4 linked regions of the Homo sapiens genome follow. The protein of the gene in region 3 purifies or fractionates together with the protein of the main gene of each other region. This does not show direct contact. Each region holds a gene or a part of one and is shown on either strand. Other genes may lie near its edges.

Evidence for each region.
Region 1: the proteins of WFDC2 (region 3) and PDIA5 purify together in Homo sapiens (affinity purification with mass spectrometry; 2 studies listed by BioGRID and IntAct, with this or other methods). This does not show direct contact.
Region 2: the proteins of WFDC2 (region 3) and WDR91 purify together in Homo sapiens (affinity purification with mass spectrometry; 2 studies listed by BioGRID and IntAct, with this or other methods). This does not show direct contact.
Region 4: the proteins of WFDC2 (region 3) and CRTAC1 purify together in Homo sapiens (affinity purification with mass spectrometry; 2 studies listed by BioGRID and IntAct, with this or other methods). This does not show direct contact.

What each region holds. Positions count from the first base shown.
Region 1 is NC_000003.12:123,119,003-123,126,027, reverse strand, and holds part of PDIA5 (protein disulfide-isomerase A5 precursor), read right to left. Parts: intron 1,963-7,025; coding exon 1,871-1,962; intron 1,757-1,870; coding exon 1,685-1,756; intron 1-1,684.
Region 2 is NC_000007.14:135,208,514-135,215,798, forward strand, and holds the start of WDR91 (WD repeat-containing protein 91), read right to left. Parts: upstream 3,014-7,285; 5' UTR 2,990-3,013; coding exon 2,867-2,989; intron 1,243-2,866; coding exon 1,063-1,242; intron 486-1,062; coding exon 278-485; intron 1-277.
Region 3 is NC_000020.11:45,465,849-45,472,765, forward strand, and holds the start of WFDC2 (WAP four-disulfide core domain protein 2 precursor), read left to right. Parts: upstream 1-3,904; 5' UTR 3,905-3,933; coding exon 3,934-4,012; intron 4,013-4,540; coding exon 4,541-4,684; intron 4,685-6,917.
Region 4 is NC_000010.11:97,901,608-97,908,632, forward strand, and holds part of CRTAC1 (cartilage acidic protein 1 isoform A precursor), read right to left. Parts: intron 6,541-7,025; coding exon 6,406-6,540; intron 3,208-6,405; coding exon 3,062-3,207; intron 33-3,061; coding exon 1-32.

The sequences.
Region 1 (7,025 bases), on a different chromosome or scaffold from region 3:
CAGACAGATTTTATGCTCTAGTGACAAATGAGATTGCTATTTGTTGAGACCTTCTCCCAAAGCAGAATGAGATGTGTCTGGATAGAGGAGAGGACACGCTTATTATCAAATGAAAAAGGAAAACAGGAAAGCAAAGGCCCAGGTTAAGACAATGAACACATGATAATGGGCAGCAGCCTTCCCAGGCAGGGGCTGGAAATGAGGTAGCCGATGGGGACAGAGATGTGAGAATGCTTCCAAGAAATAAAAGACATGATGCAAACATGTGCTAGCACTTGTGCCTTATCTCCCGAGAGTAGGCAGAACAGAAGATGGAGACTCTCCACCTTTAGAAATCTAACAGTTAGTTTCATGTGCATTTTTTTCCTGGTACAAAACCCACCCTTCTTTCCCATTTTGAAAATACACATTTTCAACCTCCATATCTTGGATAACTAATTCTTTAACCCTGGGGTTTGCACACTGTGTTCCTAAGGTAATGATGTCAATAAATGTCCACTGTGCCGGCAGCTGAGGGGAGGGGCTCCGAGCAGAACTTGAGGAGGCTAAGTTGGACTGTCGGGGCTGCAGGGAGCTGGGTTGGTGGCGGGGACCCATCAGGGCCCTGCTACTGCTTACCGGCACCACCCCTTTACTGTGCCTCAGGGACCTCATTCATAAAATGAAGAGAACGGTAACATCTTCCTTACAGTGCTGTTGTGAGGATTAAATGAGAATCCATGTAAAGTGCTTAGAACAATGTCAGCCACAAAGGAGAGCCCAAAAGATGTTGGCTGTTGTTACTCCAGCACATATGCACAAATACTCATGAAGCAGCAGTGGCTGGTAAGTGCCAAACTCGTGACACACAGAGCGCAGCCTGAGTAGGGTGCGTGCTCAGCGAGGGTGGCCTGGGGAGGCTTCCAGAAGGGGACATCGTGAGCCTGTCGTGGAAGTGCTGGTGAGAAGTGGGAATGGGGTGATCTGGCAGGACAAAGCAGCAGGCCTAGCACAGTGGAGGCTCCAGGTAAGGAGGCAGGAGCCAACAGGGTGGTGGGGTTTGGCATTACAAGGATCTAATCATGTTATAAAACAGGGATCACAGGTTGCAATGAAGCAATGCCTGTGGGGGTTGAACAGTAAAGCACTCAGCAAACCTAAGGCATTAGAATATTTCTTAGTACCTTCACAGCACCTAAGACAGTGCTGTGTTTGAAATAAGTGTTCAACTGACAATTCTATTTTCAGAGAGACCTGCAGTGGAACCTCTCTCAAACCTGGTAGCCTGGGTGAGAAATACCTCTATCCATCAGATAGATGTGTTGAGGAGAAACTTGATGTGAAATGTGGGAAGAATTCAGAAAGGCCCTGACTATTCCAGAAGAGCTGACAGGCTTAGGCAGCCCCTCCCCAGTTCCAACCCGTGGAGACGGGAGGTAGGGGAGACAGACTCCACACCCAACACCCAGGCAGGTCTGATCATCACAGGCCAAAGTCACACCAAATCCTCATGGCTCCTGCAACCTAAATTCCCACAATCCCCACAGTGGCCTAGACTCAAGCCAGAGACAGCTGTGTAGGCAGTACCACAATTCCCTTCCTCATTCTTTCCCCCAACCTCCAGCCAGAGCCCTGCGACCCTCAGGCCCGGCAGATGCCCCGCCCTCTGGGTCCACGCCCACTGACACACACACACCCCACTTACTTCTTCAGCCACTCCACAATGTCCTCAGCTGTGGACCCATAGTTGTCATACTGGAACAAGAACCGTCCTTTCCTGTGAAACGTGGAGAAACAACGTGGGCTCAGTCACGGATGCAAATGCCACCCTGAGATTATGGTCAATCACCAGGGAGGGAGGTGAGCTTTAGAAGGAAAGTGGGGGACGTACTCAAAATAGCAGATGGTGGGGAAGCCGCGCACGCTGTACTCCTCCTTGATGTTTTCAAATTCAGAGGAGTAGACATTCATCCCGGCCAGCACCTGGGAGGAAGCGGAGAAGAGCCGTGTGGAGCCTGTGCCCCACAGACACCCTCTAGTCCACACGCCATCTGTCCAGCTGCTGTCCCACCAGAAAGACATATGGGACAAAGCCCCACAGACTGATGTGCATCAGGGCTGCTGAGAAACAAGGCCAGCGAAGCCAGCCGGGAATCATGACCTGGCGCTGGAGAAGTCAGGCAGCTGGGCCGAGTGCTGCACTCCGCACGCCTGCTCCCTCTGCCTCCCTGCAGGAAGAACCACCCCAGAGCAAAACCAACGTTCTGAGGGTTGCAGAAGAAGCCGGGCCTTGCCATCAAGTTCACATTACTCTCAGAGAGGGGCCACTGCCAAGGATGTGTTACGCCTATTTCTCTGTTCATGTCAACTCGGGTTGTACTCTTTCCTAGGCTATGGAAATAAGTGGCTTTCATACACCAATTCAGCTCTGTACAACGTCCTTAGACACCTTCCTGGATACCTCACGGTTTGCTCACCTAGGCTTGAGTGTGACGTTTCCAAACCTCACAGCTTATATGTGGCCAGGGAGGCCGTGTGGTTCTCATAACACAACATGAGAAACGAGGCACCTGCCTAACTCTCCTCCTTCCAGGCCGTGCTGTGTCTCCCCAGTGTTTCCTCCTGTTGGTGACCATTACCCACAGCCTGGCTGGATCATCATCTCAGAATTCTGAACATATTCTGGCTCCAGGGGTCCACATGTCCACTATCCCTGAATCAGAAAGAGTATTTTAGTAGCTGGGTAACCGACGATGTAGCTAAATACTAAGACTGACTCATATAAGGAATCCCCTAAAACTCCCTCTGCAGTGGCATGATCATAGCTCACTGCACCCTCTAACTCCTGGGCTCAAGCAATCCTCCGCTGTCAGCCTCCTGATTAGCTGGGACCACAGACATGTGGCAGTATGTCCGGCTAGTATATTTTTCTTTTTGGTAGAGATGAGGTCTTGCTGTGTTGCCCAGGCTGGCTTCCAACTCCTGGGCTCAAGCGATCCTCCCACTTCAACCTCCCAAAGCACTGGAATTACAGGCATGAGCCAGCATGCCCAGCCAGGACTTTGAATCTGTTCTTACCAGAGAACACAGCTAGAATGGCCCGACACACAAAGGTTGTTCCACAAAGCAGAGTGGCATAGAAGCGAGGGAAAAGTAAGTAAAAAAAGCCAGCAGTAGTTACAGAAGCAGAGAGAAGAAACCCAGGAAGCTGAACTTTACTGAATAATACATAAGGACACAGAGAGAGAGGAAAATAAATAACCGTTTCAGTGGACAATAAATTGATTGCAAAGACAGCTTCCACTTATGAGTCATGTGACCTTGGGCAAGTCACTCACCCTCACTGAGGTCCCTTGCTGGAAGATGTGACCATCAAAGGGCTCTTTAGAGAACTAAATGAGATGAGAGGTTTTAGCACAAAACTGGAGCTCAGTAACTGTCATCTTCCTACCAAGTCTTCCTGGTGATGGGAGCCACTGTGCCTCTGGCCTCTCCATTCCTAGGGGCACCTGGATATCTTTCCAATTGTTTTAAGTCCCTAGCACAAGGCCTCACATACAGCAAGGACACAATAAATGCTCACTAAATTCACTGTTTTTTTTTTCCTAGCCCATTTTAGGATGCAGCAAATAATACAGGAAGAATAAATTTGAATTCGAATTTACTTGAAGCCCTGGAACGCTCTATAAAAGTCATTCTGCTCATTTCCCAGACTGCTCCAGCGGCCTGTTCCAGTAATATTTGTCTTCTTTAAAAGTCCTTTTTTTTTCTGCCTAATTGATCTCCCCAGTGTCAGTGCACATTCACCACAGATTAATCTTACACGTCCTCCTCGCTCATTACATCACTTCCCTGCACAAAACCTTCCAATTCCATTGAATATAGGCTAAAATCCAGCTCCACATTCAATGCCCATATGTTACCTATTTCATTTTTGAATCTTTCTTTCTTACAAAACTCTTCATTGTACACCTGTTAGGGTCTAGATTTTTTATTCTCCCAGGAATAAGACAGTCTGAGATTTCTGCACAGGAAGGAAGTTGGACTGTCTGCCTTCTCAGACATCTTGCTGAGTGCAGCAGCAACATGCAGTGGCTGGAAGCATGGACTCAGGATGCCTGGGTTTGAGTCCCAACTCCCCATGGGGTCGCGCATTTCCTTGAATGAGTCACAGTTGTCTCTGCGTCTCACTTTCCTCATCTGCAGCCACCTCATGTGGTTGTTGAGAAGATTCAATGAAATAATACAAGATAATCAATAACACAAAATGTATTAGCTATTTTTGTTACTAGGACTAGGAGGTGCTCTATTTCTGCCCACACTTCTGGAACACTCGCTGTTCTCTCCTGGCCCCCACTTGGTGCCTTCCAGTCCCCTTACTGAGGCTGCCCATCCCCCGCCTCCTGGCGACCCTCCAGACTCACCCATCCCTTAAGGCAAATCAAACCTCACGTCTCTGGGCAGCCTTTGCAAACCACCTTCGCTTGGGGTGAGCTCTTAATTCTCCAAGTTTCTGTAGCACTTTTGTGCCATTTTGGGGGCATCTATTAGTTAATGAGGCAAAAATTTTTGAAAAACTACATACAAACACTTTCTGGAGTTAGAATTTGTGAAGTCAAATGAGGTGACACACCTGGTCTCGGCCTGTGGAGAAGATAAGAACACAGCCTCCCTGCTCCCCACTGCCATCTGCATGCTTGGGGCCACTCAGCTGGCGTGACATGCTCTTCTGTGTGTTCAGCCCTGCTGCCAGGAACCATCACGGCAGCTTCTTAGCGTGGGCTGCATGTGAGCTTGCACTCAGAGGAGAGTAAGATTTCAACAGACGTCCCGGGATGGGGAACTGGAGGCAAGGCAAAGAAAGATGTGGCCCAAGAAATGGAGCACATTTCCATCTAACTGGAAGGCAGGATACACAGAAAGGAGAAGACATGAAAGAAAAGGCTGAGTGAGTTGGCCAGGATCACTTTGGGAAAGGCTTGAAATACCTAAGAAATCGGGACTGTATTCAGGAAGTGACGGAGAGCTCCCGAGGGTTTCTAAGTAAGAAAGCAACCCTCAAACCAGTTGTATCTCTCGAAGCAGAAAGGACGAGCTATGAGGGAATGCTGTGGTCAGGAGACAAGTCAGCAGCCTTTGGCCACCAGCTAGCATAGCCCACTGGACAGGGCTGGTGGGCAGGGAGAGGATGAAGGGTGCATGAGGAAGATGCCTGATGATGCCTCAGTAAAGAGAGGTGGAGGTGGGGGGTGGGGAAAGAGCCTGGCCCCTGGGGAAAGGACTTAATGCAAAGTTCACAGTCTGCCAGATGGAAAGATACTGAATTTTCAGACATGCATTTGAGACACAAGGGAAAAAATCCAGATGGAGCTGTGAAGCAAGCCATCTGACACGTGGCACTGGCACTTAGGGGAAGGACTTGGGCTCCATGGAGCTACGTTTTGTTGAAGCTATGGACAGAGATGTGGTCACTGGAAGGTAGACTGTAATAAGACAAAACCTTGCTCCAATGTGTTAACAGGAAAGCGGAACCTTGGGAGCACCCCCATCTAGCCGGTGGAAGGAATGTGGTGCAGGGCAGCTGTAGGGAAGAGAGGGGATCAGTCATCTGTGTCTATGAGTGCTCTGTGGGGTACAGGGCTTCTTCCACACAGCCCATTTGTTCCTCACCACAACCCAGTGTGGGCAGGGTTGGCATTATCATCTCCATTTTACAGATGGAGAAATGGAGGCTCCAAGGCTAAGGAGCTTGGACCAAGATCTCCCAGCTGGTTAGCAAGAGCCAGCACTAGAGCCTGGTCTGTACAAATCTGTCGTCATGATGGTTCTATTTCATGGTGTTTATACCCAGACTGGCCCATCATGGCCGAGGTCCACCAAAGACTAGGCAAAGCTCAAAGGCTCAGTGCAGATGTCAATAACTGGCAAGGCTGGGAAGAGGCAGATGGAGACAGGGCTCATTCTGATGGCTGCTCTGAGATGGGGGCAGCGTGGCTGCTAATGAGGATGTCAATTAGCAGGAGTAGATGGGACAGACGCGATGAGTCACCAGACGTCAATGACAGCACAAAAGAGGCAGCTGTAAGTTTGGAAATGGCAAAGGCTGTGCATCCCTGACCTGGCATGCCTTCCTTCCTAATGATGTCAATCAGGTTGAACACCTCCCAAAAAATCTGTAGAGGAGGAAGATTTTTGACCCTTGCCAGAGACAGACCCAGCCAAAAAGGCTCAAAGATGACAGAGATGAAGAAGTGACAGAAGGCCCTAATCCAGCTGTGTTTCAGCAGCGAGGAGGGGGTGAACTTTGATTTCTGGGGAATAGCAGCCCATTTATTAGTCCCACCTCTTTTCTGTGTGTGAAGACAAAAAGCAATTGACACCTGTGGTCACTCAACCCCTCCAGCCAGGTCCCCAGTTTCTGGGGAGCTGCCCCTGCAGAGTAAGCCCTAGCCTCTAGGGGCCTCCTGCGTGGGTGATGCGTGCAGCGGCCAGGGCCCTTCCCTCTTTATGTAGCTGGGAAAGGGCTAGAACTTTCCAGAAGATGCTTTTCTAGGAAATGAAAGGGAAAATAGAACAAAACAAACCCCAAGCAAGAAAATATACAAACAAAGAAATGAGTTTACACAACCCAGATGTCTTAGGCCAAGGCAGCCAACACCTGGTCACAGCTTGACTTGCCCAGCTTTGCAGACAACGCCCCTGACTTTTCTGTAATGTTGAGGGAACTGGAATGGGTAACTTTTATATTTCTAGACCTGGGCCCAGGCAGAAGAAGCTGGAATTCATTTTTTCTTTTTTTTAGAGACAGGATCTCACTCTGTTGTGCAGAGCATGGTGCAATCATAGCTCCCTGCAGCCTTAAACTCCTGGGCTCAAGTGATCCTCCCACCTCAGCCTCCCAAGTAGCTAGCATTGACTACAGGTGTATGCCATTGCACCCAGCTAATTTTTAAAATTTTTTGTAGACATGGGGTTTCACTATGTTGCCCAGGCTGGTATCTAGCTCCTGGCCTCAAGTGATCCTCCCACTTTGGCCTCCCAAAGCA
Region 2 (7,285 bases), on a different chromosome or scaffold from region 3:
CTGCTGACAAAGCCAGTACTAGCACCCCACTGCTGCCACTGTCACTGCCCACACGTCAGCTAATACTTCAGCAGCACAGTGTCAGAACTAAGATTTATGATTCCCTGGCTTACTGACAAAAACAACCACAATTTGTCCAGCCCCCTCATGTGACCCATAAAAATGGTCCCTGGGCATTTTTGTAGAAGAAATGCCTGTATGGAGACCAGCGGGCTACTGATCCTGAGGTCTGGGTGCCTCAGGCTGGGCCTTCAGCCCCAGGCAACTGAAAGGATATGCATGCACTGAAACAGGACGCTCAGGAAGTTGTGCAGGGACACAATGAAGGTGTCAGCCCACTGTCGAGAAAAGTAGGTAGCAAAGGTGGGGTTGGTGTCCGGGGATGGCAGGAAGGGCAGGACAAACCAATCCTTCCACTCAGCCTGGTTCTGGAGTTCCGTGGCCTGCTTTGCAAAGAACTCCTGAGCCTTGTCATTTCTGTTTGTCTGCCAAGACACAAGGAGGTAGCAAGGAGGGAGGAGAGACAGAAATCCAGAGGTAAGACTCTTCATCATTGCACAGCAGACAACCTTTGACTATCAGCCTGCCAGGTAAGTGGCAAAATAAAATTCCATAATATAAAGGAAATCATCACTCTTTTCTCAAGGAACTTGTCATTTCAAAGCTGGTTTAAGCTGAAGTTCTAATGATAAATCCCATCCTAAAAATTAATCCCTAGCTGATGTTCAAATAACTAAGTGACTCATTCCTCCAGGTCAGCTATCATCTTTATTACTCAAACTTTAACCCAGCTACTTATATTCTTTAAAATACCACCTTTGTTTTAAGCTTACATGCTTAACATAAAAAAGGAAATAGGAATGGGGAAGACAAGTCAGATGATCTACAGATGACGACAAGGAAAAAAAAGAAGAAAAACAGTCAAAAATAATTGCACTGTAACTGCTGCACTCTTTCCCATAGTCACATACAGATTCCTCCCTAGGAACTGGAAGAAAATCTATTTTGGGATCAAAGAGCTCCTTCCACCAAGGGAAGCAGAACCCCTGAATCAACAGGCACCTGGATTGTGTAGACAAGATAAAATCGAAACAGGCTGGTTTTCAGCTTGTGGATTGTGGGTCTGTATATATCCTCCAAGCGGCTGAAGAGCCGACGCTCCAAGTAGCTCCAATAATCCCGAAGGGCAGCCAAGTCATACACCTGCATTAACTGCTGCAGCTGGTCCACAATCTTATCCACCTGGCGAGAAACATGGATGGAGAAGGTGGTAAGGGACAGAAGGGAATTCTCCCCTCCATGGAATAAAGCTTTTTCCTCTTGTCATGGCTTCTGGGTGTAAAAAAAAATTTGTAAGTTAGCAATCTATAAAATTTTCAAAACATACTAATGCAACGGTTTTTCAGTAATTTTCTGATGTTAGAGAAGTGGTTTGACCCTCTAGCAAGCACGGAAATTTCAGGTGTAAAAGGGCTCTGGCCCAGAACCTAAGAGATCTGGCTCCAGATCTTGGATCTGCCTCTGACTTACTTGATCAATTTGGCAGTGTCATCAGGCCAGGCACCGTGGCTCACGCCTGTAATCCCAGCATTTTGGGAGGCTGAGGTGGATGGATCACCTGAGGTCAGGAGTTCGAGACCAGCCTTGCCAACATGGTGAAACCCCGACTCTACTAAAAATACAAAAATTAGCTGGACGTGGTGGCACGCGCCTGTAATCCCAGCTACTCGGGAGGCTGAGGCAGGAGAATCGCTTGAACCCAGAAGGCAGAGGTTGCAGTGAGCTGAGATCGTGCCACTGCACTCCAGCCTAAGCGACAGAGTGAGACTTTCTGTCAAAAAAGAAAAAAAAATGGCAGTGTTGCTTAACTGTAGTTTCAGTTACCTCACATTTTTAAAAAAGGGGGTGGGGTGAAGAAGAGCTATGAGACAATCTCCACAATTCCCAGATCCCAAGGATCATGAGGAGGTGCATGGACTGACTCCTTCAAGTCATCAAAGTTCCACGAAGCCGTGGTAGCTGCTCAGAGTGTCAGCCAAGGAAGTCACCTTCTTGTGAGGAGCAATTACAGCAGAGTACAGAATCTGGAAAAGGGTTTGGATATCAATACCAATCCAATGCCCCTAGTTTATAGATCAGGCCACTGAAGCCCAGAGGGGTGAAATGATTTGCTTTTGCCACTAAGTAGCCACTAACTTTGGCCAGGCAGGAAACCAGATCTCCTAACTCCCCTCCAGTGCTCTTGCTGTTAGCTCACTGCCTCTCATTGAAGTCAGTACACACAAACATACAAATCACACACATATACATTCCAAGAACCTCGCAATGGAAAATCATTTTAGAGCAGGGGAAGTTTGGGTTTCTCTAATGTGCCATGAGGTCTTCCACAACTGCAGAAGCAAAATTGCCGATGAGTCCCTGACGAGGCCATTTTAAACAAACACCGCAGATACTTGAACGCAGCTAACGTTTTGGACTGCAGACTTCTTTGCTTCCACTGCCACTGGAAGCCAACACGAATATCTGTTGCCAAAACGCAACCATCTACCTAACCTCGGCTCCTAAAACCTCATCGCCATCCTGGCCAAGGAGGCTGGAGTGGAGACAGAACCCTAGACCAGGAGCCGGGGCATCGGGGCTCCAGCCTCGGCGATGCTCCTGACTCGGGGGGCGGCTTCAGGCAGGTCCTGTCCGTCTGAGGGTCTCAGTTCCTCATCCGTCAAGCTGGGGTCGGACGCGCTGAGGTCTCCGGCGCCCCGGCGCGAGTGACAGCGCCGCTCTCGCCCCGGAGGCAGTGCTGGGGGGAAGCCCGCTCCCCGGCTCCCTCGGGCCGCCTCTGCCCGCGCCGCTCCCGCCGGCCTCTCACCCGGAACCCCTTCTCCTTGTCCGCCTTGATCTCGGCGTCCAGCTGCCGCAGTGTGTGCGTGAACCCGCGGAAGAGCAGGTACTCCCGGACCAGCTCGTCAGTGCGCTCCACGGCCTCCGCCATCGCAGCGCTAGCGTCTTTAGGGGTGGTGCGGTGAGGGACGGAGGGGCGGGGCCTGGGAGAAATGGGGCGGGGCCGGACGCGGGCGCCGAGCACGTCACGCCGCGACAGGCCTACCAGCCCGCACGCACTGGGCGACCAGCCTGAGGCCCCGCCCCTCGGCCGGCTCCCCGCCCGAGGCCCCGCCCCTGAGCCAGCCCCAGCCCGCCTGGCCGCTCGAGTCACCCTTACCCCTCCCGAGGAGTGGCGAGGGGAGGTCCTGGCGGCGCCGGCGGCGGCTTTGTCTGAATTACTGAAAGTGGCGGCTGCCACCCACGTCAAACAAGACTGGATCTTAAGAACATCCCAGGTAGTCCCGAGGCGGGCAGGGGGTGCGGCGCCCTGTTGGTTGGCGTTACATCGCAGAGCTCCCGGTCCCCTGCCCTCCTCCTACACGGAGGAAGCTGGAGCCCTAAGAGCAGAGTGACCTGCGTGAAGCCACAACACGCGTGTCCTCAGAGAGCGCTAACTCCCCCAAATCTCTGCTTTCATTAGTAAGACGAATTGGCTACACAGCAAGATAACCAAGATGCACTGCTAGGATAGGCAAATTTCATAGCAGTGTATGTACGCTATAGTCCTGGTTTCTTGTGAAAAAAAAATTAGGTATGTATGTGTGTACATTTTTTAAATTCAGGAAGATTATACACCAAGTTCCTATGCAGTCGGGTCTCTGCATCCTCGGGTTCCGCATTCACGGATTCAACCAACGAGGATTGAAAATATTTTTTCCAAAGTTTTAAAAATAAAAAATAGCCGGGCGCAGTGGCTCACACTTGTAATCCTAACATTTTGGGAGGCCAGGGTAGGCGGATCTCTTGGCCCCAGGAGTTGGAGACCAGCCTGGACAACATGACGAAACCACATCTCCACAAAAAAAAAAAAAAAAAAAAAATGCGGAGCGCAGTGGCTCACGCCTGCAATCCCAGCACTTTGGGAGGCCGAGGTGGGCGGATCACCTGAGGTCGGGAGTTTGAGACCAGCCTGACCAACATGGAGAAACCCCGTCTCTACTAAAAATACAAGATTAGCCGGGCGTTGTGGCGCATGCCTGTAATCCCAGCTACTCGGGAGGCTGAAGCAGGAGAATCGCTTGAACCCAGAAGGTGGAGGTTGCAGTGAGCCGAAATCGCGCCATTGCATACCAGCCTGGGCAACAAGAGCGAAACTCTGTCTCAAAAAAAAAAAAAAAAAAAAATTAGCCGGGCGTGGTGGTGCTGCCTGTGGTCCCAGCTACTTGGGAGGCTGAGGCAGGAGGATCACTTGAGCCCAGGAGGTCGAGGCTGCAGTGAGCTGTGATTGTACCACTGCACTCCAGCCTGGGTGACAGAGCAGGACACCGTCTCAGTTTAAAAAAGAATACAATTTTTAAAAACACAAATTAAATATAGCATAACAACAATTTACATAACATGTACAATGTATTCAGTATTATAAGCAATGTAGAGATTATTTAAAGTATACAGGAGGAAGTGTATAGGTTAGATGCAAATACTAGGCCTTTTTACATCAGGGCATCCATGGATTTTGGTCTTCTAGGGAGGGTCCTAAAACCAACCCCCTGCAGATACCAAGTGACAATTGGAGTGGTTTTATCTGAGAGGTGAGACTATGAAGGACTTCTTGTTTTTTACTTTCTTTTTATTGTTGAAGTTTTTACAAGGTGCACGTATTTTTGTAAGTAGGAAAATAGCCAATATCTTTGAGACTTGCTTCTGCAGAATGGTGACAATAGGCCGGGCGCGGTGGCTCACGCCTGTAATCCCAGCACTTTGGGAGGCGGAGGCAGGCGGATCACAAGGTCAGGAGATCGAGACCATCCTGGCTAACACGGTGAAATCCCGTCTCTACTAAAAATACAAAAAATTAGCCGGGCGTGGTGGCGGGCGCCTGTAGTCCCAGCTACTCGGGGGGGCTGAGGCAGGAGAATGGCGTAAGCCCGGGAGGCGGAGCTTGCAGTGAGCCGAGATCGCGCCACTTCACTCCAGCCTGGTCGACAGAGCGAGACTCCGTCTCAAAAAAAAAAAAATGGTGACAATAACACCCACCTTGCACAGTAGTAATGAAGATTTAATAAGACAGTGTATGTAAAACGCTTAGCACAGTGAATGGCCTATTGGTAAAATGCATGGAGTGTTCCCTTCTCCTTCCCTCGAATGGTATGACTTTTCGTGTTTGTCAAAATACAACTCAGAATCATTGCTGCCCCTCTGCTCAGACCCTCCACTCCTACTCTATGGAAATTCAGCTCCAAAAGGGCTCTGATCTACACTAGAGAAAGCCAAAAAGATAGCACAGGGCAAGCCACAGCAGGACGAGACAGACCTTGTTCTGCCCTCTTTGTTTGCCCTACCTGTCTCCACAAGTGTACCCTCCAGGCAGCTAAACTTGCCTCAAGGGCAGGAAAGGAGAGTCACCACTGTGACTACTGGGAGACCAACTCCTACTTTGAGATCTCAGATCATCAAAGTGAACTTGGAAAATTTGGACAAGTTGCAACCACCAAAGCTTCCACCTACAGGAAAGTTGTGAAGTAGATTTCCCTAAGGGCACCTGAAGTCTGCAACCATAGTTCTCACCTCCCCCACCTCCATCTGCCCTGACACTTCCCAGACCAGAGCCTGTAAAACCAGCTAAGATTAGTTTTCTGATCAATGAAAGGCAGCTCCTCAGAGCTTAAGTACAAGCCGTTTGTTCTACAGGAATGTCTTCTCCAAGATACCCACAGGGATAGCTGCCTTTCCTCCTTCACGCATTTGCTCAAATGTCACTGTCTTAGTCCTTTGGGGCTGCAATTTTTTTTTTTTTTAGAAATGCCATAAACTGGGTGGCTTATAAGCAACAGAAACTTATTTCTCATAGTTCTGGAGGGTGGAAAGTCCAAAATCAAGACACTAGCAGATTCATTGTCTGCTGGATGCCCACTGTCTGGTTCATAGATAGTGCCAAGTTACATGCTCAGTAGAGAGCATCCATCGCCATAGCCTTTGGTAGATAAATCTTTTCTTACTGTAGTCAGTTCCTTAAAAAGTCATGAGCACCTCTGAAAACTGGAAATGGCCCACAATGATCCATCCAGTAATTCACAGGTTTCCTATTGGTAGCCCTCATGCTTGTTGTAGGAGGCAGCCTATGTATATGTTAATCTTTCGTTCACTGAAAATCAGTGACACACAATAGATACCCTTTTTCACTTCTCAAATTAGTAATTTTTAAAATGTATTGCCCACTGTTGGTGAACATAAAATGAAAGGGGCATTGTCATTAAGCTTCAGAAGGAGCTACTTTTCTAGGAGTCAATTTATAGATTATCAAAGCTTCCAAAATGTTTCTACTCTTTAGCCCAGTGATCCCACTTAATTTCTTTAATTTCCCTTAAAAAAATAATTTTAAAAATAAGCTGAAAGAAAAAAAAAAAGGCTGGGCACAGTGACTCACACCTGTAATCCTAGCACTTTGGGAGGCCCAAGTGGCAGAATCGATTGAGGCCAGAAGTTATGACCAGCCTGAGCAACATAGGGAGACCCCGTCTCTATTTTTTTAAAAAAGAAAGTAAATTAATTTAAACATTAAAAATAAGATTTATGCAGAATGGGGTTTTTTTTAATAAAAGTGCAACTTATCTTTAATAATGGAAGTTATTTACAATAGTGAAAGGTATAAGTATTTAGAGGCTACAGTGAGTTACCCTCCAAGATCTTGGGAATGAAGAAATTGTACTTCCCACTGAGAGTTAAACGGCAAAATCAACCTAAGATGGTTTAGAGTCCAAGGATGCAAAATCAGTGGAAAGAGAGAGAAAAGATATTAGGCTCACTGGCCTTGGTTGAGGACATTCACTTCCAAAATAAATATTATGTCAGTCGGAAGAGGTTTTAAACACAGGCACCCAGAAACCAGAGAGTGCCATGGGCAGGGCCCATGCTCATTTGCAACACAGCCGGCACTTGTCCTATGTTCTGACCTATGGCAAGGCCATCCCCAAAATGAGAAGGTGGCACTAGACCATCCCAAAATTGGGCCCCGATAGGCATCCCACTCCGCTTTTCCTGGTACAAAGCTCACAAAAAGACCATTTGTGTCCTCAGCATTTGACTACATGGAAACATAGCATTCCAGTGTCTTCCTCCTGGTAAACTAAAAGGCAGTTTTTGATTACAATAGTCTTCCAACATAGGTGGAAAGGATATCATTTATGCCAGTGTTACCACGAATAGTCCCTGTGTGACAGTTATATGTCTCATTCAGATTTACAAAGTG
Region 3 (6,917 bases):
CTGCTTGCACCCAATAGCACTAATTGATTCAGTTTAGCTCTCAGAACTGAAGGAAAGGCTAAAAGAACACAGCTTGGAAAGAATGGTAAAGTCAGAACTGAGTTCTTCCCAGGACACCTCTGAGTTAGCTCCATAAATTTTCAGGTCTTTTATCATTCATTGCTCAAGATTACAGTTCTAGGAACAGTATTTGATTGGCCACTCTGCCTGGGGGTAGGGCAGACACATTAATTGACAGTCTCCCTGGCCCCACCTGTCTTGGTCTGGAGGAAGTTATTTCCTCCAAAGCAAACTCAGGGTGATTTATCAGAAAAAGGACAAATGAATGCTAGGTGACAAAACAAAATAGTCAATATATCCAAAGAGAGAGGTTTCCATGGAATGAAAGGAAGTTTGACTGAGTCCAAAAGTCTAAAAGGAGAGGCCCATTGCATGGTTAAAGGCACCTTTTTTGTTCCTGGAAACTTCTTAAATCTTCACCGTTAACTTGTTTACAGTCATTTTAGAGTGGGCATGTCTACAGCTAATTGACATCATCTACCACTATAAACTTTTCCTTCTTTCCTTTCTGCTTCTTTTCTTCCTCCTCTTCCCTGATATATATTTTTTTACACTCATGAAGTCAAGTCCAAAACTTTGGATGCATCATCTACGTTAACCTCAGATAGATCTGTGTGAATGTGTATAATATTGAAATAACTGGGACAACACAAGTAATTTGGCAAGAGTCTTCCCTCTGATTTACTGGCTGTGTTTCCTCCAGCAAGTCACTTTGCTTAGCTGAATCTCAGTTTCTTAACGTGTAAAATGGGAGTAATAATACTTAATCCATAAGATTGCTAAATACATATAAGCTATCTTTCACCAAACACTTACTATGTGCCCACTCCAGAGGTCACAAATTTAAATGTCCTCCTGGGGTCAGGTGAGCACTGTGAATGGAACTAGTTGCAGAGAGGGAGGATGGTGGTGGTGGGGATTATGGGAAACTGGAGGGAATGCTTCCCTCATAGAAAAAGAGTAGCTGTACTTAGGTTCTGGTTTTCAAAGTATGGTCCCTAGCCCTGCAGCATTGGCATCACCTGGAAACCTGTTAGAAATGCAAATTCTCAGGTTCCAGACCTACTAATCAAAACTCTGGGGATGGGGATCCTGCAATCTGTATTTTAATAAGCCTTCCAAGTGATTCTGATGCATGCTTAGGCTGGGCACTGTGGCTCACACCTGTAATCCCAGCACTTTGAGAGGCCAAGGCGGGCAGATCACCTGAGGTCAGGAGTTCGAGACCAACCTGGCCAACATGGTGAAACCCCGTCCCTACTAAAAATACAAAAATTAGCCGGGTGTAGTGGCGCCTGTAATCGCAGCTACTTGGGAGACTGAGGCAGGAGAATCGCTTGAACCCAGGAGGCAGGGGAAGGGAAGGGAAGGGGAGGAGATGGGAGGGGAGGGGAGGGGAGGGAAGCCTGGGGGACAGAGCAAAACTCAGTCTCAAAAAAACAAAAACAACAAAAAAAATGATTCTGACGCATGCTCAATTTTGAGACCTGCTGCTCTAGCTGATGGTTGTTATATCTAAGATTGCAGGACTGTGTTGCCAGATCTTTTACTTTTTCCAAGAGAAGCTAGAGGTTTATTTTTATATGAAATTCGCTACTTTTAAATCTTGGCAACTAATTTAAAAATTTAAAACATACTGTGTAGTTAATAATGTATGTGCTCTAGCCAGATTTGCAACCTCTGATTTATGCTTTTTCCTTTAACCCTTATAATAATCTTATAAAACCCTTATAATAATCATCCAAGACTGTTAGGATGATACACAGTTTATGCAGGAAGAAGATGCAGGCCCAAAACATGAAGTGTTTCTCTAAGTCACATAGCCAGAAAGTGGCCATGGATGCATTGTCCCTGATTGGGCATGGATGCATTTGGTTCTAAAGCCTCTGCCCTTTTAAATGATGTAAAGAGAATATCTATAACTATACCTAGCACGGAACTTGGCACCACAAAAGCTAAACATCTGATGCCATTGACTGATGAAAATTCCTTCCCCATCCTTCTGCCTGGCCCTGCCACTCTCCCTCAGTCTGTATTCCTGTAAGAGAGAGCCAATCAATAGGGTGCTCATAAGGGCCTGGGAGGAGCAAGGCTGGGCAGTTTCCTGGCCCAGGGAGCTGAATAGGGCCCGGAAGAAAGCTGTTGGCAGCAGTGCCTGGGGCTGAATGTACAGTAGCCAGCTGGGTCCACGGGCTAAAAACTGGCTGCTCACCCCAGTGTTCTCTTTGTGCCCTAGACTGGGTTTCACTAGCCTGTTATGGGCTGTGTTCCCACCTGGCTCCTGCCCTCATTGTTGACTGAGCTCAGAGTAAATAGCCCTGGCCCCTCCCAATAACGTCCCCAGTCCCCAAGTTGAGCATGAGAAGCTGGGGGAGGTGTTCTCAGCATCCATTTTGGGGACAGTGGCCAGATGTACTCACATCACCAAACCCTACTCACCTGTCACTATCATCCCAGTGTTCACTGCCCCAGGGCCCCTCTAGCCTCCAGCAGCAAAGACCTCCTGGGGCTTCTAGAACCTCAGATCATTGGAGCAGGAAGCACTTCTTGTCTAACTCCCTGGGTAACTCTGTTTTGGCACTTAACCCCCTGGATTCTAAAGCTTCATTTATACTTATTGGTCTCCTTCGTCACAGGAGACACTTATCTGTGGAGCACTCATGGCCATGTATCCAGTACCTATCATGGGTCAGGCCTGGAGTCCCTGTGTCAATCAGTGTGGATCTACTCTCAATGCTCCCAGTGAGTACATGGTTGTTCCGTGGCAGGAACGTTGCATTTGTGTTCTCACTGAAGTCCCATATAGGTGTCATTTTCACTGATGATGTGGCAGCTCAGATCCAGGAAAGGATTCATTCCAGGGCCCTCAGGTGGGAAGTGGTGGAGGTGGGAGTCAGACCCCAGACCCTGTCACCCCTTCAAGACCAGTGCTGGAGGGCCCCTTTTGACGACTTTCTCTTCACCAAGCGTCTTGCCCTGCATATGTCACACAGTAGGCACCCAGTGAATATTTACGACGGAATGGAAAAAACAAGGGCCTGGAGGGAGAGACCTGGGTTCAAAACCTTATTTGTACAGCTTTGCAGGGGACCTTGTGGTGGAGGTGCGGTCCTAAATCCCTAAACACTCAGTTCCTTTGTCATATACAGCTGATAACAGTAACTCCCCGGTCAGAGGACCGGCGACAATTCCTTGAGACAAGGAGCACAGAGCCTGGCACAGTCAGCCCTGATCAGGGGCCGGTAGGACAAAGAGAGGGAGACAGAAACACACACCCAAACGGCTTGAGACTGCTAGGTGCTTCACCTTCCTGGGCCTGTTTCTGATGAGGAGGGTTTGTTTATTAATAATAAGTGCTATTTCTGTAGCCCCTACTATGTGCTCTGTATCACTACCCTAGCCCTCCATCAAGAGGGATCTGCCCTCTCATCTGGCTGACCCCAAATCGAACCCTTTAACCCGCATGCTCTACTGCCTCCCTGCGGGCCCTGCCTTATCCTCCTCAACCGCCCACTGGGGACACTCTGGAGAAACCTCGGAGTCTTGGAATAGAAACCCAGGAGCCCTGAGCCTTGGCCCTCAGGCCCCAGGAGGGAGGTCAGGAGGGAGGCGTGGACAAGGGTCCGGCCGTAGCTGGTCCCGTCCTGGAAGCTGCTTAAGTTCCTGGTTCCCACCGGGGCCAAGAGTGATACCTGATCCTGGGGGATTGTGAAATGACCTCATGTGGCAGCCCGCCCGCGGTGCCCGCAAAGCCCTCCACCCTCCCCTTCCCCGCTCGGCTCCACCCCTACCCCACGCCCCCTCCCGCGCGCGCGGTTAAATCCCCGCACCTGAGCATCGGCTCACACCTGCACCCCGCCCGGGCATAGCACCATGCCTGCTTGTCGCCTAGGCCCGCTAGCCGCCGCCCTCCTCCTCAGCCTGCTGCTGTTCGGCTTCACCCTAGTCTCAGGTGAGTGGGGCGGGGAGAGGCCCGGCGCCTAGAGGGGCCGAGCCACGAGCGCCAGGATGGAGCCAGGCGGAGGCGTAGCCTCTGGAGGCTGGGGAAGTGGGAATTCCGGGGGCGGAAGTGGCGGGGACCCTTGGAGCCTAGGGTGTGGGGTCCAATGTGCTGGAGGTGGAGAGACCACTGATGGCTGCAATTTGGGAGGATTCTGTGCTGAACGCGGACACTCCGTGGCTGCAGTGGGCTGGGGGTGGGGGCTGCTCTGCCTCGACCTCGGAAGCTCCGAGACGCTCAGCTGTGCGGCGTCCCCTAGGGCTGAGATCTGAGGGCCCCGACGCCAAGGGTTAGGGAGCTCTCGTACTCCCAGGGGTCAGGGACTCCTGGTCTGGAAGAAGGAGTCTCTGGGGGCTGTAAGGGGACTCCTAGGGCCAGAGACTGAGAATTCCTTGGGGTTAAGGTTTGGAGCAGGAGGTGGGCATCCTCTGGGGCTGGCGCTACGCCCCACCCTCGACTGTCCCGGGCCTCCCCTCCCAGGCACAGGAGCAGAGAAGACTGGCGTGTGCCCCGAGCTCCAGGCTGACCAGAACTGCACGCAAGAGTGCGTCTCGGACAGCGAATGCGCCGACAACCTCAAGTGCTGCAGCGCGGGCTGTGCCACCTTCTGCTCTCTGCCCAATGGTAACCCCACGGCGGCCGAGCGGGAACGGGGCGGGGCCGCGCTGGGCTGGGAGGAGGTGGGAGGGCCCGGGTTCCGGGAACAGGGGCGCCCCCGGACCCGGGGACCCCCGGGAAAGTCAAGGCGGTTGAAACCAGATCCGTCAGTCCTCTCCCTCGCACGGCCCAGGGGTAGACAAAGGCGTCGTTGAAACGCAGCCAAGGGGGGGTCCCCACCCCTAGCTGGGATTCGAGTCTCTGGTGCATGACGGGCTTCCGGGCACGCACAGCCGGGACATTGTTCCCCGCGGCCTGGGGACCCGGGGCCGCAGTTTCCTTCTCGAACCGGCCGAAGCCTGCCCTGCGGGAAAGCCCGGAGCCTGGGGCGCTCACCTCTCCTCTTGGAGTCCCTCCCTGGGGGCCTCCCCCAGCCCTGGGGAAAGACTGGGAGAGCCTGGCCTGGCAAGATTTTCCCCAATTCCTCTGTCCAGGCGGAAAGGAACTTTACAGATTTAGGAAAATGCCCCGCTCATCTTAAAGATGTGTAAGGGAGCATCGGTGAGAAAAAAATGTTCTTGCCCAAGGTCACACCGCCATCCCATGGCTGCTGGAGTCATAGTGAGGGTTCAGCTTTTGCCTTTCAGGCCAACTGGCTGAGTGATTCGAAGAAAGTGAGGAATCCTCCCTGGACACTGTATCGCCCTTCGTCGTCTTTCAGTCAATCTCTTCCACTCTAAGGATTGAGTGAGCGCGAGCTGGGGACTCTCTCAAAGGTGCTTGCTGGAGCTGCAGTCTCCACCAGGCTATCAGAACAGGGGGTGGCTTAAACAGCATGGAATCTCAGCTTTCCGTTCTCCAGAGGAAAATGCTGAGGATTAGAGGCAGGGATAGGACCTGGAGAGAACCAAGGTACTGTAATGATGTTCTTTATCCAGAATACAGCCCCTGTGACTTTTCCTCTCTGTTATTTCCTTGAAGATGCCAGCACAGGCTGGGAAGGTTTGTAATACGGTGACCCAAGACACCGATCAGCAGGGAGGTGGTAAGTGGAGGGGGACTGGCAGCCCACCAAGGGCAGCTTCAAGGTCATGAGTCCCCTCCTCTGGGCCAGGGAGAGGAGGACCAGAAGGAGAGAGGAAGATTTGGAGAGAAAGCAGGCAGCAGCCAGATGAGAGAGGTGGAGGAGCAAAGGAGGGAGTCTTTGCTGTTTGATGGATGAAGAATTTGTTCCCTTATCTCAGATGGACAGACTGAGGCAGGAAGAGGGACAAGGTCAGATGGCCTCCTGAGCCAGGGAGGCAGCCTGGAGGTTTGAATCCTAGTTCTGCCATTTTCTAGTTATGTGATCCTGAGCATGTTGTTTACCTCTCTGAGCCTCTGCTCTAAGATGGGAATAATTCCAAACTCTATAGGATTGGCATGAGGACTAAATGAAATAATGCATCTAAAGTGTCTATTAGTGAGAAGATACTCCATACACAGTGGCTTGTTTTGATCATAAATGGTTCCCTATTTATTTCCAGGGCAGCCCAATATTACAGGTTCCTACTCCTTTCAAGAGAATGAATTTCTTTGTATTAGGAAGTCAAGACTGTTGGCAACTTAACAACATTTTTTTTTGTATTTATGCTTTAAGTTCTGGGGTACACGTGCAGAACGTGCAGGTTTGTTACATAGGTATACATGTGCCATGGTGGTTTGCTTCACCCATCAACCCGTCATCTACATTAGGTGTTTCTCCTAATGCTATGCCTCCCCTAATTCCCAACCCCCCGACAGGCCCTGGTGTGTGATGTTCCCCTCCCTGTGTCCATGTGTTCTCATTGTTCAACTCCTACTTATGAGTGAGAACATGCGGTATTTGGTTTTCTGTTCTTGTGTTAGTTTGCTGAGAATGATGGTTTCCAGCTTCATCCATGTCTCTGCAAAGGACATGAACTCATCATTTGTTATGGCTGCATAGTATTCCATGGTGTAGACGTGCCACATTTCCTTTATCCAGTCCATCACTGATGGGCATTTGGGTTGGTTCCAAGTCTTTGCTATTGTGAACAGTGCTGCAATAAACCTATGTGTGCATGTGTCTTGGGCATTTGCGTTGGTTCCAAGTCTTTGCTATTGTGAACAGTGCTGCAATAAACCTATGTGTGCATGTGTCTTTATTGTAGAATGATTTATAATCCTTTGGGTATATACCCAGTAATGGGATTGCTGGGTCAAATGGTATTTCTTGTTCTAGATCCTTGAGGAATGGCCA
Region 4 (7,025 bases), on a different chromosome or scaffold from region 3:
GAGGGCATGGAGAACTTGGGTGAGGCGATGTCCTGGAGGAAACAAGGCTGGGGGTCAGTGGCAGGAGAGTGGGCTGGGGCGGGAGGCCAGCTCTCCTCTATGGAGTGTGGGGGCAATTAAAAATAAGAGACAGTCCAACCCAAAAGCTCCTCTCCTGCCTCCCGCAAAGGACCTGGGGGCTGCCTTTAGGACCACACAGACCTCAGGCTGCTTGTACGAGAAGAAGGAGGGAAGAATAACAGTCGTGCTAGACACCAGTGAAGTGCTTAGCCGATCCCTAGTCTGGATCACACCTGTCCATCCCTTCTGTCCATCCCTTGAGGCAGTACAGACATTAGCCTTCCCATTTGACGGGTGAGGTAACTGAGTCCTGGAGAAGGAGGGGAACTGCGATGTCACAGCTACTGAGTGGGGAGGCCAGGGCTTCTGATTCCGGACTCTGTGCCCTTTCTCCTAGGCACCCTTCCTCCTCTGTGCTGAGTCAGAAGCTGGGTGGGCACCGGAAATCTCTGTGCATCTAAATCCAGGCTCCACCACTGACTAGCTGTGTGATCTTAGGCAAGTTACTAACCCCCTTGGATCTCACCTTCCCCATCAGTAATGTGGGAATAGTAATAGCTGCCTGGGTTGTGAGGATTGCATGTAAAATGCCTGGCACAGAGTGGGCATGACATAGCTCGCTGGCAGCCTGTCCTGCCTTACCCACCACCTGCCTCAGGGAAGGTGAAAGAGGTTACCTGTAGCTGTGGATTTGGCTGCCTCTACTACCTTACGTTGTTTCTTGGGAGTCTTTTTATTTTTATTTTTTGAGACATTTGCTTTGAGGGGGTTGCGGTATCAGCTACACCTGTCCAGGACTAATGGGGAGACCCCAGGCCCAGGATAGCCCAGCTGGGACTCCAAAGTACTGGGAGGGCCTTGGGGGACCAGGCAAAGGGTCCCAGGTGTGTTTCTGCCTCTGAAATAGAAGGAGAGCTGGGAAGGGCAATCTTCTATTTCTGAGCGTAATATCCTCATCATAGGTGGGTTTTTCCCCTAAAGACCTTGGGGACATGTCTAAGTCCCAGGGCCCACGTGGAGAGGGCTGAGAAAGGTACAGGTGGTGTCTCTGGGAGCATCCTCTACCCGACTTGGGCCTGCTCTCGGCCTCCTGCTGCAGACCCTCTTTGGCAGCCACAGGGATGAGCAGGCTGGGTCAGCGGTCGAGCTGCCTGCTCTGGGGAGGCCAGGGAAAGAGGCTGTCTCCATCAGAGGAGTAATGAGGTTGAATAAGCCTGGCCAGCTGGTCTGGGTGGGTTGAGCTGGGCCTTAAGAGCCAGGGAGCAAAAAGACCTCAGGATCTCTAGCCGTTATGATTCTATTGATCCTATAAAAATGGAAACCTCCCATAGCCCCCTTGGGGTTGCCCTATTCGATGCCTGAGCTTCCGAGATAATGTATGTTAAGCTTAGCACAGTTCGTGACACATGGAAGGCACTTGATAAATAGGGCATTTATGTATTATTAGTATTATTATTGCTCCTGAGAGCTCTGGGGAGGGGCCTTCGGAAGAATTAACAGGGTTCCTCACCCTCAGTGCGTTGGCGTTTGGGACTGGATAATCCTTTGTTGTGGGGCTGCTTTGTGCACTGTAGGGTGTTCAGCCCTATCCCTGGGCTCTGCATACTAGATGCCAGGAGCCCTCCCTTCCCCAGCTGTGACAAACCCAAATGTCCCCAGACATTGTTGAATGTCCCAGAGGGAGGGCAGCAAGATCATCCCTGTTGAGAAGCTGGGTGAGAACAAGAGTAGAATAAAGGTGGAAATCGTCCAAGATCCCAGGACGAGCTGTCCTGGGCTCAGGGCATGCCTCTTCCCAGCCCAGGGAGCCTGAGTCTCAAGCCTTAGCAGGGAGGGAGTGGCTGGGCCTGGGCGTCCCAAGGTGGCTGCTTACAGGGAAGGGACTTGGTAGGGGTGGCCTCTTCTTGGTTACACAGACATGAGGTCCCTGGGGACTTCCCTGGGATCCTCAAGCCTCAGGAAAACCCTGGAACTTTCCCATTTCCTCAGGGGTTTTTGGCAGACCTAGGTATCTGCAGAACAGTCCTGGATCCCTGAGATCAGCTTCAACCAGCCCATGCCCTCTGTTGCCCTCCCTGAGAAAGTTCCAAACCCATGCCCCTCATGCTGTTGGCACCTCCATCACTGTCACTAACAGCCCTTTTGAAGAATTCTTGGCATCGGTCTATCAACAGCTCAGGGAGGGGGCACAGAGAGGGCTCTGAGGCCACCTTGCCTGCCATCTGCTGTTTGTCTTTAGGGGCAGCTGTTGGGAACTCCGTGGCTTCAATCTTCCATTCTCTCCACCACTTTGCCCTTGGTTTGAACGTCAGTCTGAAAAGGTCTAAAAAGCTGAGGCCTGGCTTTTGTGGAGTGTGCAGGGGATGCCATCCTGTATCCCCTGCACACTCCACAAACACTCTCTGCTCTAGCTGCTGGATCCTTTCCAGGAGCCACCAGAAAAAATGGCCTGGATCCAGAGAGTGCAGTCCACCTCCCAGGACTCCGGCCCACCTCGGAGGCTGCTCTCCCACCTCTGCTGACCTGGTTCTTCCTACTCTTGGATCCAGAGCTCCTACAGCAGCCCAGCTGTAGTCCCTCGTCCCCTGGTGTAACCTTCCTTGTCACCCCACCCCCACTCTGGGCCCTGAGAGCCTTGAGCCCTGCTCAGCCTGGTGGGAGGAGCGAGGCAGCTCCATGGCATGCCGGGGCACCCCTGCAGTGGTGCTGTAGGGAGGAGTGAGGGAGAGGCCCTTTCTTTTTATTTTATTTTATTTATTTATTTTTTTATTTGAGATGGAGTCTCGCTCTGTCACTCAGGCTGGAGTGCAGTAGCACGATCTCAGCTCACTGTAACCTCTGCCTCCTGGGCTCAAGATTCCTGTGCCTCAGCTACCGGAGTAGCTGGGATTATAGGCACGCACCACCACACCTGGCCAATTTTTGGTATTTTTAGTAGAGACAGGGTTTTGCCATGTTGGACAGGCTGGTCTTGAACTCCTGGGGTGAGGCCCCTTCTTACCCGGAAGCGGACCTTCCCATGGGTGCTCATTTGCAGATAGAGGCGGTGGGGGCCATTCCAGTTGCCATAGACGATGTCCACTTTGCCATCACGGTTGAAGTCAGCCAGGGCGACACCTCGCCCATGCTGGTGGGGGTCGTCCACACCTGGGGAGGAGAGGCAGGAACTCTCAGGGCGGCATCCCCTGCACACTCCACAAACACTCACCCTGCTCTAGCTCTGTGACAAGCAACTAGGGAGGGTGACTCTCATCTTGTTCCCGGGAGGAGATACGGGAGACATAGCTGCAGTCTCAGAAGCTCTCTATAGGGGCAGGAAGTGGGACAGTCATGTGCTTGAAAAGAAGACCCAAGACTTGTGTTCAAGCTGTGTTTGCCCAGCATGCATATTATTTTTACCCTGTTTGGGGGGTGGCATGGGTTGGGGGAGGGAGACTGGGGGAAATTCTGGAGGACCAAAGGCTCTTCCCGGCCACCCCTAACACTGCCACTGGAAGACATTAAGCTGATCATGCCACTCTTTTGCTTAAGCTGATCATGCCCTCCAATCCTTTTAGGGAAAGTTCTAATTCCTGCCTGGGGAGCACAGGGTTCTGCCTGACCATGGTCCTGTCCGCCTTATCTGGTCTTGATCTGGTCCCACTCTCCCCATCTTTCCAGCTCCTGGGCCTTTGCTCAAGCAGGTCTCTACCTGGGATGCTCTCCCTCTAGCTCTAGGTTACCCAGCTCCTGGTTATTCTGCTCTCAGCCACAATGTCACTTCCTCCGGGAAGCCCTCCCTGACCACGCATCTGAGACAGCTCATCTTGCCCACCCTGTCAATCTCCCTGACAGCCTCTTAGTCTTCTCCTCCAACATGTTGATCACAATGTGCGGTTACGTTCCTTTGTGGTTGACTTGTTAGGGTCCGGTTTTCCCACTATCCCTGACGTTCCATGAGGTCAAGACTCTCTTCTTGGTTCACCTGGGTACACGCAGCATCTATCTCAGGGCCTGTGGTTGCCTGGTAGTTTTCAGTAAATACTTGCTGAATGAGTGCACAGACATAAATAACATGACAGAAGGCAAACCGGGGACGTGGGTGACAGCAGAGGAAATACTACAGCCACGACAGAGAAGCCCACAGCATGCCTGGTGAGACCTGGAAAGCGAAGCCTCTGTGCCCAATGCCACCTGCTTATACTATCCACGGAGTGGGTGCTGGGGGAGGAGAGAGGGTGGCTTTGCCCAGAGCGATGGGCTGACCTCCTAGCTGCTCACTGGCCAGTGCATAGCTTGAGAGACAGAGGTGAATGCGACTCTAAGCACCCACCCACGTTGACTCTTTCAGAGGACAAATAGCTGTGGGTCATCAGGCTCTCTGGGATGGCAGACCACAGGACAATGTAATAGGCAGTGGGGATCAGAGACCCCAGGACACAGGGAGCTCTTGCCAGAAGGCAGGGTGGGGCCCCCTGAGAACCCTGGAGGCTGAGTGTCCTCCTGGGGGAGAGAAGGAGCTGGGGGAGGTGTGGGAAGAAGAGGCAGTGAGACTTGAGAAAGAGGGTTCGCAGAGGACTAGGGGCAGCCTCCAATCCCTAGGATTAATACTCCATTAATTCTCTGCCAAACTCCTCGGCCCAAATGTCGGTGGCCTTCTGCGTTGGCCCATTTCTCTCCTATCTATGAGGCACCTTGACAAGGAGCTGGTTCCCTTTCACGGGAATAATCGGTGCCAGGCTGCATTTCACAGCAGCATCTGTTTGGGTGATGAATGCCCTCTTGACATGTCTTGTTAAACCCCTGCAATCATTCTGACTTTCAATTACGGGCCTAGCACCTTGCCTCTCTCCTCCCGCCTGATACCTTCTCCCACTCCAACTTGTTCGCTCACCTCTGCTTCCATCTCTTTAACACCTTATCAAATCCTCTAGGTTTTCTCCACTATTCCCTCCCCTTTGCTTTATGATTTTTCAGCAATGAGAAAATTTGCTGCCAAAGGATAGCACTAGGAGGGGTGAGCCAGGTGGGAGGACAGGCCAGGGGAGTCCAACTTCTGCCTTGCCAGAGAAGGATAAGAGGTAAGGCAAGGTAGGGAGCTGAATGGCAAAAAGCTGGGGGTGGGTGTGCATTCTGGGCCAGTAAGTCCCCACAGTGGAGCTCCTGGGCAGAATGCTGGGGTGGTAGGTACTCGTAAGTCCAAGAATCCAAGAGAACAGACTGGCACACGTGCAGGGATTCGATGTGAACTGCTGGCAACAGCCAGAGCTTGCAGGACCCTTGATCTCTGTGTCTAGATCCCACTCACCACTCCTGCAGGCCAGAGCTCTTCCCCATGCCTCCAAGAAGGAGGTGAAATCAAACCTCCCATTCATTGGCAAGGTCGGGGGAAATGGTCAGGGGTGCCTGGGATGCAATCATACATCCGAAAACTCGCAGGAAGTGTCCACTCTGTCATTCAGCAGAATTTACCGGTGGGCACTGGAGGCCAAGCCTTGCGTCAAGAATGAATAGAACCGTGACCCGGTCCTTGTAAAGCTCATAGACAAACCATGATGGCAATGTGGAGCCTGAAGAAGACGTGCATGCCACGGGCAGCAGGAGGAGGAAGGACCAGTTTCTGCTAGGTGGCACAGGGAGTGAGGAAAATCTCTGCAGAGGTGATATTTGAGGTGAACGATGAAGGCTAAACGACGTTCTGCAGGTAGAGAAGGGGGAGGGCAGTCCAGGCAGAGGCCATGGCAAGTGCAAAGGCCCTGAGGTGGGTGGGGGATGAGTGCAGAGGAAGGAGGAGGAGCACAGCTGGGGGCCTGGGGCACTATTTTGTGTGGGTTTTATCCTGCTTCTTATTACAGCCGGATATTTTTGTCTACATCTGTTTCTAGAAAGTCATTGCCTTTTCTGTGTGTAGGGTGGTCTTAGCCTGATTCAAGTGGGCATCCCTGGTTCCCAGTGCCAACCTGACACTTAGTAGGGGCTCCATGAATGCTCACTGTATTGAACTGAATGTTGAAGATAAATGTGGGAGGGGGCCAAGGTGGGGAGAGGCAGCTTGGAGGATAGGTTGATGCTGAGAGACACAAGCAGGACTTGGAGGGTCGCGGGCAATCTCAGGTACTGGAAGATGGCAATTGGCAGGAGTTTCAGACCCCTTTCCCCAGCAGCAAACACTCCCTGTGGCTGGAGCCAAGGGAGCTAAGGAATAGGAAGTGACAAGCAGCGTTTCTCTGTGTGGTGCAGACGATGACTTGCCCTGCTCTCCCTCAGCCAGAAGAGACTATCCTGGAGGGGGCAGGGCAGTCTGGAGTCCTCTGTGGGTCTGGGGTGAGGGGTCAGGGTGCACAGGGCATGGCTGCCTCCACTCACCAGCACTGGCCGCAGCGTCCACAAAGGTGCCATCGCCCCGGTTGTGGAAAAGGAAGTTAGGCCCATTCTCATTGTCGCAGAAGATATCCGAGGCACTGCTGCTGAGGATGGGGCCCACGCTGACGCCTCGGCCCCCTAGAAAAGACATCGACCCACAGTGAGTGGCAGAAGCAAGCCCCAGGCCCACCTGGAGGACAGGGCTGCCTCTGAGGCCTGAGGGGAACTGCAGCAGAGGCTCCTCAGAGGAGCCTGGGGGGAATTCTGCTTCCCGTGCTTTCCTGAGCCTAAATCTGGGCTCATGGTCTCCATGAATCTGTGTGGAAGGTAACAACACTGATGAAGAGGGAAGGAAGGAGCTCAACCGGGCATGGGGACCCCACACAGAGGCCAGCATCTGCCTTCCCCTTCTAAGAGAAGTGGCTGAACAATCATCTTAAATCCTAAACCCACAATAATCCTAAACCCAACTCTAAGCACGCCATTTTGGTCAAGTCACAGATACCCCAACAGACTCCCGACTCTCACTTTGAGTGATACATATGCTGGTCAAGACCACTGGGTATGTCCCAGCTTTAAGAACCTATAGGGATAGGTCCCAGCTATAGGTACGCAGATGCTTA